Linked DNA regions of Homo sapiens: all the other regions are linked to region 1. Evidence: fine-mapped expression QTL. A gene starts in region 1. Each other region holds a variant in brackets. All regions are shown on one strand. Distances are between the middles of the regions.

Evidence for each region. PIP is the estimated chance that this variant, and not a neighbour inherited with it, causes the effect.
Region 2: its variant is the best candidate, but not a certain one, in a credible set for the expression of VPS35L in whole blood (TOPMed, PIP 0.75).
Region 3: its variant is the best candidate, but not a certain one, in a credible set for the expression of VPS35L in whole blood (TOPMed, PIP 0.55).

The regions. Positions count from the first base shown.
Region 1 is chr16:19,553,535-19,557,666 of GRCh38, reverse strand. VPS35L (VPS35 endosomal protein sorting factor like) reads right to left here and starts at 1,964. Exons shown (of 31, transcript NM_020314.7): 1 at 1,921-1,964. The coding sequence starts at 1,937. RefSeq lists enhancers at 1,280-1,509, 1,368-2,330, 1,890-2,369.
Region 2 is chr16:19,575,969-19,579,968 of GRCh38, reverse strand. It overlaps VPS35L (VPS35 endosomal protein sorting factor like), which reads right to left. Exons shown (of 31, transcript NM_020314.7): 6 at 841-917. Among named protein-coding and RNA genes, the nearest start is that of VPS35L, 22 kb to the right of the region's middle. The variant AAAAAAAG/G (reference allele first, on the strand shown) is at 1,676.
Region 3 is chr16:19,593,094-19,597,093 of GRCh38, reverse strand. All of the region lies in intron 8 of VPS35L (VPS35 endosomal protein sorting factor like), which reads right to left. Among named protein-coding and RNA genes, the nearest start is that of VPS35L, 39 kb to the right of the region's middle. The variant C/G (reference allele first, on the strand shown) is at 2,024.

The sequences.
Region 1 (4,132 bases):
TCACGCCTGTAATCCCAGCACTTTGGGAACCCGAGGTCGGCGGATCACTTAAGGTCAGGAGTTCGAGACCAGCCTGGCCAACATGATGAAACACCGTCTCTACTAAAAATACAAAAATTAGCCTGGTGTGGTGGCATCGCCTGTAATCCCAGCTACTCGGGAGAGTGAGGCAAAGAATCACTTGAGCCGGGAGGCGGAGGTTGCGGTGAGCCAAGATCACGCCACTGCAATCAAGCCTGGGCGAGACTCCGTCTCAACAAAAACAACAACAACAAAATATTTAGAGCACGGCCATATTAGGAACTATAGAGACCCTAAATACTAAAAGCGTTATGGCACCTGTTTGCCTGCTTGTAATATAAAATTAAAATTCCAAAGGTAGAAATGTACTGGGATGCAGAGATTAAGACAGCATCTTCCTGGATTTTCTGATTGCAAACTTCAGATAAATCCACTGAAGTCAAATGTTTCTCATGTTTTTGGTTAGCTTTTTGGTCAAGCCAGCATGACTTTTTCATTTTTTATTATTATTTTTTTGAGACAGAGTCTCACTGTTGCCCAGGCTGGAGTGCAGTGGCATGATCTCGGTTCACTCCAGCTTCCGCCTCCCAGGTTCAAGCGACTCTCCTGCCTCACCCTCCCAAGTAGCTGGGATTACAGGTGCGTGCCACCACTAATTTAGCCCAGCTAATTTTTGTATTTTTAGTAGAGATTAGGTTTCGCCATGTTGGCCAGGCTGGTCTCGAACCCCTGACCTCAGGTGATCCGCCAGCCTCGGCCTCCCAAAGTGCTGGGATTACAGGCGTGAGCCACCATACCCAGCCAGCATGACTATTAACTGAAAAAAAAAAAAAAACCTCAGGGTGTGGAAGTGCTCAGAGGCATTCAATGCTGATGTAGCGTGTCAAGGAAGCAGTCTCTTAAGTGTTGGGCAAATGAAAGGAATAAGACAAAATGAAGTGTTTATCAAGCTCAAAAGCAGAAGGTTGTACCTGATTATTTCTAAGGTCTTTCATTTGCTCATTTAATCTAAGCTACTTCACATCATTTGAAGAGAAAGTAAATTATCTCGCTTTCTGAGATGCAGGAGAGATTCCCCGTCCCCAAATCCCACTATCATCAACAACACAACTTCCTCAAGTTCTTCACTCACACACATACCACCTGCTGAACCCTGAAGCTTCAGTCACTCATTCCTAGCTACTCCAACCACAAGGGACCTACGGGCCTGCCAACCAGGCACACGCCACGCCCTCCCTATGGTGGACTCCTATTCATCCTCCAAGACCCAATTTAACTCCTCCTCTCTGAAGCCTTCCCCTAGCCCCCTGGTGGGGATAATCACTCCCTTCTTGGTGCCTCATCCGAATGCCTTCTTTAGACATCCCTCTACTGTGCGTCTGCCCCATTATACTGTCAGCTCCTTGAGGCCAAGGAATAAGTCTGAGGGCTGTGCCTAGGATAGGATGAATGGCGGCCATTTTACAGATGAGAAAAGCAAGTCTCCAGGTGAACAGAGGAGCTGAGGAAACTGACCAACAGCCAGATCTCCCGACTCGTCCAGACTTTAAAAGCTGAGTCCACCATTACCCTCATCCAGCGACCCCAGAACCCGCGCCAACTTCTGGGGACGCGGAAGCCTGGAAACTCAAGTTTTCTTTAGGGAATGAATGGACAGGGGCCCGTGGAAGGCGCAGAGAGGCAGCAGACGGGGAGAGAACCAAGAACCCGCCAGTCTGGCTTCAGATTGCTCCGCTGGACCGCGGTAGCGGCCAGGGATTCTACGGTCAAGACAACTTGGGGGTGGCCGGTCGACCACCAGAACCCGACAGAGAGGAATTCACACTCTCAGACCCAGGCCGACCCCATCACAAGTAAGGACAGCCCCTCTCCAAAGCCCACCCGCCGCTGCTTCCTTACCAAGGAAAGACGGCCATCTTCCCAGTCACATGACCGCTTGTTCTGGGGCCGTCTGCTCGGCTTCCCATCCTTACCCCGCCACTCCCCGCACCCCTCGGCCGCCATGTTTGTGAAGGGCAGCTGGCCGCCCCGCAGCGGCCGCACAGCACCTTCTGCAGACGCCATGCTTGTGAGGGGCAGGCGACGCTCCGCACAGCACAGGCTTCATTTTCAGCTGACGCCATGCTTGTGAGGGGCAGCTCCCCGCTCCGGACAGCCCGGGTTACAACTCCCGCCGGCGCCATGCTTCGGAGGAGCAACGTCGGCCACGGCCAGAGTGCCGTAGTTTCTATGAGTCATGATTGTAAAGGGCAGCTGTCTACAGTGCCGGGTGGTCCCGCCTGCGGGCGTCATGATGGTAAAGGGCATGACTGCTGCTTAGCTCACCTGCGTCCTCTAGGGGCAGAAAGGACTCCAGAAGGCGGCGGAGCGAAGACGCAAACTGAGGTTCAGCCAGTACCTGGTTTTGCGGCTAATACGCTGTTTGGCGTGGGACAGCCATGCCCCCTCTAGGCCGCTGCTTTACCCACTGCTTTGCGGGCGGTTTTAGACACTTGCAGAATGCCCTTCCCACGACTAGCAACCGAGGGCTGCCCTAGATCTAATATGATTGACTACAGCTAATGCACGTGGGGAAATTAGGGTTCGCATTTCGTCCAACTTGGCAAAGCAGTGTTTCTAGGAAGGTGGATATCCATTTCGACCACAGAACGTTTTTAAAAATTATTTTAGGCCGGGAGCGGTGGCTCAGGCCTATGATCCCAGAACTTCGGGAGGCCGAGGTGGGTGGTTCACCTGATGTCAGGAGTTCGGGACCAGCCTGGCCAACATGGTGAAACCCCGTCTCTACTAAAAAATACAAAAACTAGTTGGGTATGGTGGCGGGCGCCTGTAATCCCAGCTACTCGGGAGGCTGAGGCAGGAGAATTGCTCCAACCCGGGAGGATGAGGTTGCAGTGAGCCGAGATTGCGCCATTGCACTCCAGCCTGGGCTACAAGAGCGAAACTCCATCTCAAAAAAAAATTTTTTTTTTAATTATTACTTTTATAACTTACTTAGATATCCATTATGGTCCCTTAGAGAGAAAGCATTCGATGTTTTTATAACTCTTACTTTTCATTCGGGGGTGGTGGTCTGTGGTTGTTCATGAGATGGTGACCTATGACAGGGAAAAGGATCATCTCCAGAACGGGCCCTCCAGTGTTCAGCTCAGTATGAGTAGGAAAGTATATCCACTCGTACCTGCTATTCCCAACACTGGAAGTGAACAAGGGTTAAAGGGTGGCCACGGGAAAGCAAGGAGCTCTTCCCATACAGCCATGCATGTTATCACATGCAACATCTCAATAAGAGGTCAAGGTGAGGAGCCTTTTCCTAGGCTCACACTGCATGATTAGGCAGTAACAAGAGGAGGATTCTTAAAGTTGTGCAAATTAACAGCTTTGATGTGAGCTTCAACCTTCGCATTCTCTTTTCTCCCTCTCCTTCCCTTAGCAGGCTTCTATCTCTTAATAAGTTAAGACATTTCCAGCCTGAGTTTTACCTTCTGAAAAGTCCAACTTTTAGTAGAGACGGGGTTTCACTATGTTGGCCAGGCTGGTCTCAAACTCCTGACCTCAGGTGATCCTCCCGCCTTGGCCTCCCAAAGTGTTGGGATTACAGGCGTGAGCCACTGCACCTGGCCCAGGGGACATATTAAATAATGAGATATATCTTTCATGGAACTTGTAAAGAATGATTATATACAATATTTGTTTTGGCCTAATACTTTTCAATATCTGTTTCTTTTTTCTTTTTTGTTTTGGAGACAAAGTCTCATTCAGGCTGGAGTGCAGTGGTGCGATTATAGCTCACTGCCACCTGTAACTCCTGGGTTCAAGTGATCCTCCTGCCTCAGCCTCCAGCGTACCTAGGACTACAGATGTGAACCACCATGCCTGGCTAATATCGGTTTCTTTTTTGTTTTGTTTTGAGATGGAGTCTTGCTCTGTCACCCAGGCTGCAGTGCAGTGGCACAATCTCGGCTCACTATAGCCTCCCCATCCCAGGCTCAGGCGATTCTCCTGCTTCAGCCTCCCAAGTAGCTGGAACTACAGGCATGCACCACTACGCCCAGCTAATTTTGTATTTTTAGTAGAGACGGGGTTTCACCATGTTAGCCAGGCTGATCTC
Region 2 (4,000 bases), 22 kb before region 1:
CTCGGTCTCCTAAAGTGCTGGGATTATAGGCATGAGCCACCGCGCCTGGCAAAGATTTTTTTTTTCAAGAAATTCTGTATTTGTTGGTTACATTTACCACTGTTTAAGTGTTGGCAAAAGACTCACTTTTTTTTCAAAGTACATGTAGGCCAATTAAAAGATTCCTGTGGGCCATATCCAGCCAGCCTGAGCAGCGTCTGTTGCAAAGCAAGGTCTTTGTGCTCCATATAAGGCTGCTTCTCAGGGAGGTGACTGCAGTTGGGTTATTTTTTTTAGACAAAGTCTTGCTCTTTCGCCCAGGCTGGAGTGCAGTGGCATGATCTTGGCTCACTGCAACCTCCGCCTCCCAGGTTTAAGCAATTCTCCTGCCTCAGCCTCCCGAGTAGCTGGGATTACAGGCACCCACCATCACGCCTGGCTAATTTTTGTATTTTTAGTAGAGTCAGGGTTTCACCATGTTGGCCAGGTTGGTCTCGAACTCCTGACCTCAGGTGATCCTCCCGCCTTGGCCTCCCAAAGTGCTGGGATTACAGGCGTGAGCCACCGCGCCTGGCCTTGCAGTTGGTTTTTACCATTAGACACTGTTGCTAGGCGACCCAGCCTTGCTCAGGCATCACAATGAGAAAAGAGGCCTCTAGAAAAGCAGCCCCAGTCAGGCTTCCGTGAGCTCGGCCAACTGCACACTGGCACCCTTCCCTGGATGGAGTCATTGCCTCGAGAGGACCAAGCACAATGCGCAGCCCAGGAATTAATCAAAGAGCAGCCACCGAGGTTGATCTCACTTGGCAGGAGGAAGGAAAAGCTCTCCCACTCCCTGTATTCCACAAATGACTTGCTCACCTCCTCAAAGTCATCCAGCTCCTCCAGCCGGGTCCGCACCTTCTCTGACATTGCCAATGTGGCAGTCCCAGCTTTGCCTAAACAGAATGAATTTACGTCACACAGGTGGCTTTTCTCGTGCACCAATACCCCCAGTGGAGGCATCTTTCACTCTACACTTCATCGTGAATAAAGACACAAGGGAATGATTCCATTATAGAAAACTATCCCAGATTTTCAAAGCAACTTCCTTATGTAACCAGAATTCCATCGAAACATTTCCCACTTAGAAGCTGCCCCTGGGAGCCCAGTGGGCCAGCCTCAAAGAGGTTAACCGCTGCATTTGAGATTTACAAACTTTGCTCTGTATCATCTGTTTATTCCTAAAGAAAGGCAGTCCAGATAAGGATGCCAAAAATCCGTCATCTAATTGTTTTCTATGAACAAAAGGCCCTCTTAGGCTCTTACTCACAGCGTAGAATTGTGCTCTCCTGCTAACAAAACAACCATCTCACTGTCTACCCAGGGTGGAAACACTAGGGCTTCAAAGCCCTCTCTTCGAGCAAACAGGACTAGCTGTGCCTCCTTCCAGCATCTGTCAGCACAATTTCGCCATCAGCAGGGACTGGTGGAGGGATGAAGGAAGGGCCCCCAGGCCACAGGCCAGCCACAAGGCAGGGCGATGCATCTAGCTGACTGCTGCCCTCTGCGGCCGTCTATTTCAGAATCCTTCCCCCATCTTTAGGGGGCCTCTGTTCTAGCATTTTTTTTTTTTTGAGATGGGGTCTTACTCTGTCGTCCACGCTGGAGTGCGGTGGCGCGATCTCGGCTCACTGTAACCTCCATCTCAAAAAAA[AAAAAAAG/G]AAAAAAGAAAGAAATGTGGACTTAGGGTCGAGCTGCAGAACTCTTTTTGTAAGCCTGACAAATGTTTTAGGTTTTAAGAGTCACAAAGTGTCTGCTCCAACTACTCAACTCTACTGTTGTAGCACAAGAGCAGGCATAGATAATATGTAAACAAATTGATAGGGCTCTGTTCCTATAAAACTGTACTTAAAAAACAGGCAGTGGACCAGACTTGGCCTGCAGCATGCAGTTTACCAACCCCTGATCTGGGGATACCCCTAGTAGTGGAATGCTGGATCAAAGGGTTGGCTCATTGTGTTAATCCCTTTGAGCTGCTATAACAAAATGCTACAAAGTGGGTGGCTTATAAATAAGAGCAATGTATTTCTCGCAGTCCTAAAGGCTGGGAAGTCCAAGATCAAGGTCCCAGCAGATTAGGTCCCAGTGCCTGATGACAGCCTGCTTTCCGGTTGGGTTCATAGATGATGCCCTCCTGCTGTGTTTTCACTTGGTGGAAGGGGTGAGGGGAGTGCCCTTGGACCTCTTTTATAGGGCACTAATCCCATTCATGAGGGTTCCACCCTCATGACCTAATCACCTCTGAAAAGGGCCCATCTCCTAATACCATCATCTTGGGGTTAGGATTTCAACATATGAATCGGGGCAGGGGAGTGGGGTTAGGCACAAACAACCAGACCACAGCACCTGTCTTCAAATAAAATAAAAAATGCAAAAGTGTTCTACAAGGTGGTTGTGCCATTTTACATTCCCACCAGCAGCATATGAGAGCTCCTATTGCTCTATATTCATACAAAGTCTCATCTTTGAAATGTGATCCCCAGTGTTGGAGGTGGGGCCTGGTGGGAGGTGTCTGGGTTGTAGTGGGGGATCCACCATGAACGGCTTGGTGCCATCCTTGCAGTAATGAGTGCAGTAATGAGTTATTCTTACTTCCCATGAGAACTGGCTGTTGAAAAAAGCCTGGCATTTTCTCCCTCTCTCTCCTCCCTTCTCTTGCCATGCAATCTCTGCACACACCTGCTCTCATTTGCTTTCACCATGAGTGGAAGCAGCCTGAGGCCCTCACCAACAGCAGATGCTGCACCATGCTTCTTATATAGCCTGTGGAACCATAAGTCAAGTAAACCTCTCTTCCTTATAAATTAGCCAGCCTCTGGTATTCCTTTATAGTACCACTAAACAAACTAAGACACTTGGTATCATCACTCTATTTGATCTTTACAAACTGGTGGGTATGATTTACCTTTTATGGTCTGGGATCAAAATTCTGTCCATAACAAGCTGGGCGTGGTAGCTCACACCTGTAATCCCAGCACTTTGGGAGGCCAAGGCAGGTGGACCACTTGAGGTCAAGAGTTTGAGACCAGCCTGGCCAACATGGTGAAACCCTGTCTCTATTAAAAATACAAAAATTAGCTGGGCCTGGTGGTGCACACCTATAGTCCCAGTAACTCAGAAGGCTGAGGTGGGAGAATTGCTTGAACCCAGGAGGCAGAGGTTGCACTGCACCATGGGTGACAGAGCAAAATTCCATCTCAAAAAAAAAAAAAATTCTATGCATAACAAAGCTGTTCCCACTCTCTTGATTTCTAACGTGCTGTCTCATCCAGCAGAGCCGTGGGGAGAGTGGCAGCTGCCATATCAGAGACCTGCAATGAACTATGATTGTGCTCATCTGCACCCAGCAGCACATGATCCGTCAGTTGCTCCAGAATCCCCTTGGAGCATCAAAATAGGAATTCTGGGGTCCCATCCTGCAAGATTAATTGAGCAAGTGGGGGCCAGGCATCTATATTCATACAAAAGTTCCTCAGGAAATCCTGCTACACGGCAGTTTGAGACACCCTGGTCCAGAGCTTCTGACTGTGTGTCTTAGGAGAGGAAGCTGAGAACTGCATTCAGGGACCAGTGACGTATAAGACTAAGCATGTGACCCCCTCACCAACATACCTTATTGCACAAGGGAAAAGACTTAAGGCAAGGGAAAGGCTCTCTAAAACCCAGTTGGTGAGGGAGGCACAATGAGGGGGAGACTACTTCCTCTGTAATTCTTAAACAGTAAGCTTACGTTTTACTCCTAGTAACCTCTTTGTTTTTTTTTTTTGTTTTTTTTTTTTTTTGAGACAGAGTCTCGCTCTGTCACCCAGAATGGAATGCAATGGCACGATCTTGGCTCACTGCAACCTCCGCCTCCCAGGTTCAAGCGATTCTCCTGCCTCAGCCTCCTGAGTAGCTGGGATTACAGGCATCTGTCACCATGCCTGGCTAATTTTTTTTTTTTTTTTTTTTTTTAGTAGAGATGGAGTTTCACATTGTT
Region 3 (4,000 bases), 39 kb before region 1:
TCACCATGCCCAGCCCTTTCCTTCCCTTCTTTGTTGTTGTTTTGTTGTTGTTGTTGTTGGTTTGATTGTTTTTCTGAGATAGAGTCTCACTTTATCACCCAGAATGGAGTGCAGTGGCTTGATCTCAGTTCACTGCAACCTCTGCCTCCTGGGTTCAAGCAATTCCCCCACCTAAGCCTCCCGAGTAGCTGGGATTACAGGCGCGTACCACCTCGCACAGCTAATTTTTGTATTTTTAGTAAAGACGGGTTTCACCATGTTGCCCAGGCTGGTCTCGAATTCCTAAGCTCAAAGTGATCTGCCCGCCTTGGCCTCCCAAAGTGCTGGGATTACAAGTGTGAGCCACCATGCCCAGCCTTTTCATTTCACAGAGCCACTAGTACTCCACTATACAGACACACCATAATTTATTGAGCTAGCTCCTATTGATGGCCACTTGAGTTGCTTCTTATAGTTTGCTATTACAGGTGGGATAGATTCCCAGAGGTGAAACTGTTGGGTTAAATGTACATGCATTTAGGCCAGGTGCAGTGACTCATGCCTATAATCCCAGCACTTTGGGAGGCCAAGGTGGGAGGATGGCTTGACTCCAGGAGTTTGAGACCAGCTTGGGCCACACAGTGAGATCCCATTGCTAAAAAAAAAAAAAAAATTCGCTGGGCATGGTGGCACACACCTGTGGTCCCAGTTACTTGGGAGACTGAGACAAGAGGATCCTTTGGGTCAAGGAGATCAAGGCTGCAGTGAGCCATGATCACCCCATTGCACTGTGGCCTGGGCAATGAAGTGAGACCCTGTCTCAAAAAAAAAAATGGTATATGCATTCCCCCATAAGCAATGTATAAAGAGAAATAAAGTAGGTGCTTTGACTGCAGAGAGCTAGTTGAGCCTCAGCTCTGCAATTCACTATGATGGTGACCCTGGGCAAGCTACTTTCCTTCTCCAAGCCTCAGGTTCCTCATCTATAAAATGGGGACAACAACCAGACCCATCTCATAGGGCTGTTATGCAGATTATGGGACTTAATATCTTTTTTTTTCTCCTGCCTCAGCTTCCCGAGTAGCTGGGACTACAGGTGCCCACCACCATGCCCGGCTAATTTTTGTATTTTTAGTAGAGACGAGGTTTCACCATATTGGCCAGGCTGGTCTTGAACTCCTGACCTTGTGGTCCACCCACCTTGGTCTCCCAAAGTGCTGGGATTACAGGCATGAACCACTGCGCCTGGCCGGGACTTAATATCTATAAAGCACCTAAACAGTCTGTCCAAGGTCATCATCTGTTGAAGGTTTACCACTGCTGTTCCCAACTCCCAGCCCAGCTGTTTTCTGGGACGCAACAAGGACAGCAGCATCTGCACTACAGCCCGGGGAGTACAGGACGGGGCTGGAGTGCTGCTGGCAGGAGCTGGCAGAGTGGCTGCCCAGAGTTCTTGCAAGGTGAGTGAGCTGTCTGGGTCTGGCCAGGCTTGCAGGATAGAGCTAATCAGTGTCTCAGAGTTAATCTTGCTCAGGAAAGCTGACTCATACAAAAGAAACTTAGGAGAGGCGGGCGAGGGAACCAGACGGCCAAGAGGTTAATTCACGGGAGGAATGAGACTGCCAGGGGAGCCAGACACAGCCACCAGCCTCTCCCCACCAATGAGGGCCTCACACTCGCCGAAGGTAAGCTGTGTGCATGGACACGTCAAGGACCAGCAGTGTATGATTTGACATCTAACCTGAGAACCTAAAGCCCTCATCCATCCTGGGTCTCTCCTCACCATCTCCACCGCCTCCCGGGGCCAAGCCACCCCTGCCTCTCACCGCAAGTGCTGCCACAGGCTCCGGGCTCTACCCCCGCCCTACAGTCTAGTCTCAACACGGAGCCTGTTAAATCCCACGTGGGATCACCTCCCTCCTCTGCTCAACACCCTCTGGTGGCCCCTCCTGTCCTCAGAGTCAGAGTCAAAGCCCAAGTCCTCCCAGTGGCCCCCAAGGCCACCATGATCTCTGACCATGTCAGTTTCTGCCCCTCTCCCGGG[C/G]TCATCTCATCGCCTCTCTCTTGGCCTCCTTGGTTCTCAGGCCAGCCTGGCATGCTCCCAATGCTCCCACCCCAGGATCTCCGCACAAGCTGTTCCTTGGCCTCTTCTGCCCCTGGCCTCCACCCCACAGACCCAGAGGGCTCACCTCTCCCCTCTCACCGCCTTCAAGCACCTGCTCAGGTAACCTCTCAACGAGGCTTCCTCTGAGCACCTTACTTAAACTTGCACCCCTACCCCCTCACCTAATTCCCTCCATTCCTCTTCACCCCCTCACCCCACTCTGGTTTTCTCCATAGCATGGATCATTGTCTAACATACAATTGGGTTGACTTAATTGTTTTGTAAATTCTCTTTTTTGGAAACATAAGCACCACAAAGGCGAGGATTTTTTTTCTCTTCTTTTTTTTTTTTTTTTTTTTTTTTTTTGAGACGAAATCTCAGCTCTGTGGCACAGGCTGGAGTGCAGCAGCGCGATCTCAGCTCGCTGCAACTTCCACCTCCCGGGTTCAAGCGATTCTCCTGCTTCATCCTCCCAAGTAGCTGGAATTACAGGTGCCTGCCACCAAGCCTGGCTAATTTTTATATTTTTAGTAGAGATGGGGTTTCACCATGTTAGCCAGTCTGGTCTCGCACTCCTGACCTGAAGTGATCCAACCACCTCAGCCTCCAAAAGTGGTAGGATTATAGGCGTGAGCCACTGTGCCTAGCCAAGGCAAGGATTTTTATCCCTTCTGTTTGCTGACACCTCCCTAGTGGCCTGCAGAGAGCCTGATACCACCTCTCCGGGCCATCTGAACCCATCAGGGCTCATCTGTCAGCTGGGACATCTCTTCTTTTTGCCCAGGTAGCATCCACTCCCCTTTCTTCTGCTAACTGTATCACTCTTTTAGTTTTGGGGTGACCCAGGCCTGGATAATCAGTGCATTTCATCCCCCAGATAACACAACTGGCTCAGGGACTGACATGTGATCCAAGCCAGGCCAATAAGATGGGATTCTGAAACTTCTGTGGGAATGCTTGGAGAAAGTAGCTCTTTCCATGCCCTGGGACCACTAGCAATAAAGCTAGCAGAAGCTGAGGACAGCTTGTGAAGCTCGAGAATGCACCCAACCAAGGGCAAGGTCTTTTTTTTTCTCTTTTCTTTTTTTTTTTTGGAGACGGAGTCTCGCCCTGTCGCCCAGGCTGGAGTGCAGTGGCGTGATCTTGGCCCACTGCAATCTCCACCTCCTGGGTTCAAACAATTCTCCTGCCTCAGCCTCCCAAGTAGCTGGGACTACAGGTGTGCACCACAACACCCAGCTAATTTTTGTATTTTTAGTAGAGACGGGGTTTCACCATGTTGGCCAGGCTGGTCTTGAACTCCTGACTGCAGATGATCCACCCACCTCGGCCTCCCAAAGTGTTGGGATTACAAGTGTGATGAGCCACCATGCCCGGCCCAAGGGCAAGGTCTTAATGACACTGTTTGGGTTCCTGGATCCAGCTGCACCTGAAGCCAAACTACCCCTGGACTTTTCAGCATAAGCCAATAAAGACCCACTTTTTCAAGGTTAGTTAGCTTTCTTGTCACTTGTTTTAGCTAGCGCACTCAGGCCTCCGGTCTCTTGGACAGGACTGGGATGCACAGAAATGAATGAGTCTCTCAGATTGATAGTCTGCTTTCTGACACATTGTATCTTTCGATGGGTTTACAGATAAGATTTGCTGGGTTGGGAGCCCATTAGTCCCTGTAAGACAGTGAATGTCTCTGTTCTGATCTTCCACGTGTTCAGCTCTCAGAAGGCGCCCCTATTTCCTGGTTCTGGTGGGGTGCCTTGCTGTGGGGCACATCATATACAGCTTAGAGGGCTGCATGGTTTGAGCAAACTGCTAATGGCACGATGTTCTGGCCTAACCAACCACTGCCAAGCAGCACAGGGGCCTCCTGCTCCTCCAGGTTATTCTCTTCAGTCTAAACCTTTCTACCTGGCTCCAAAA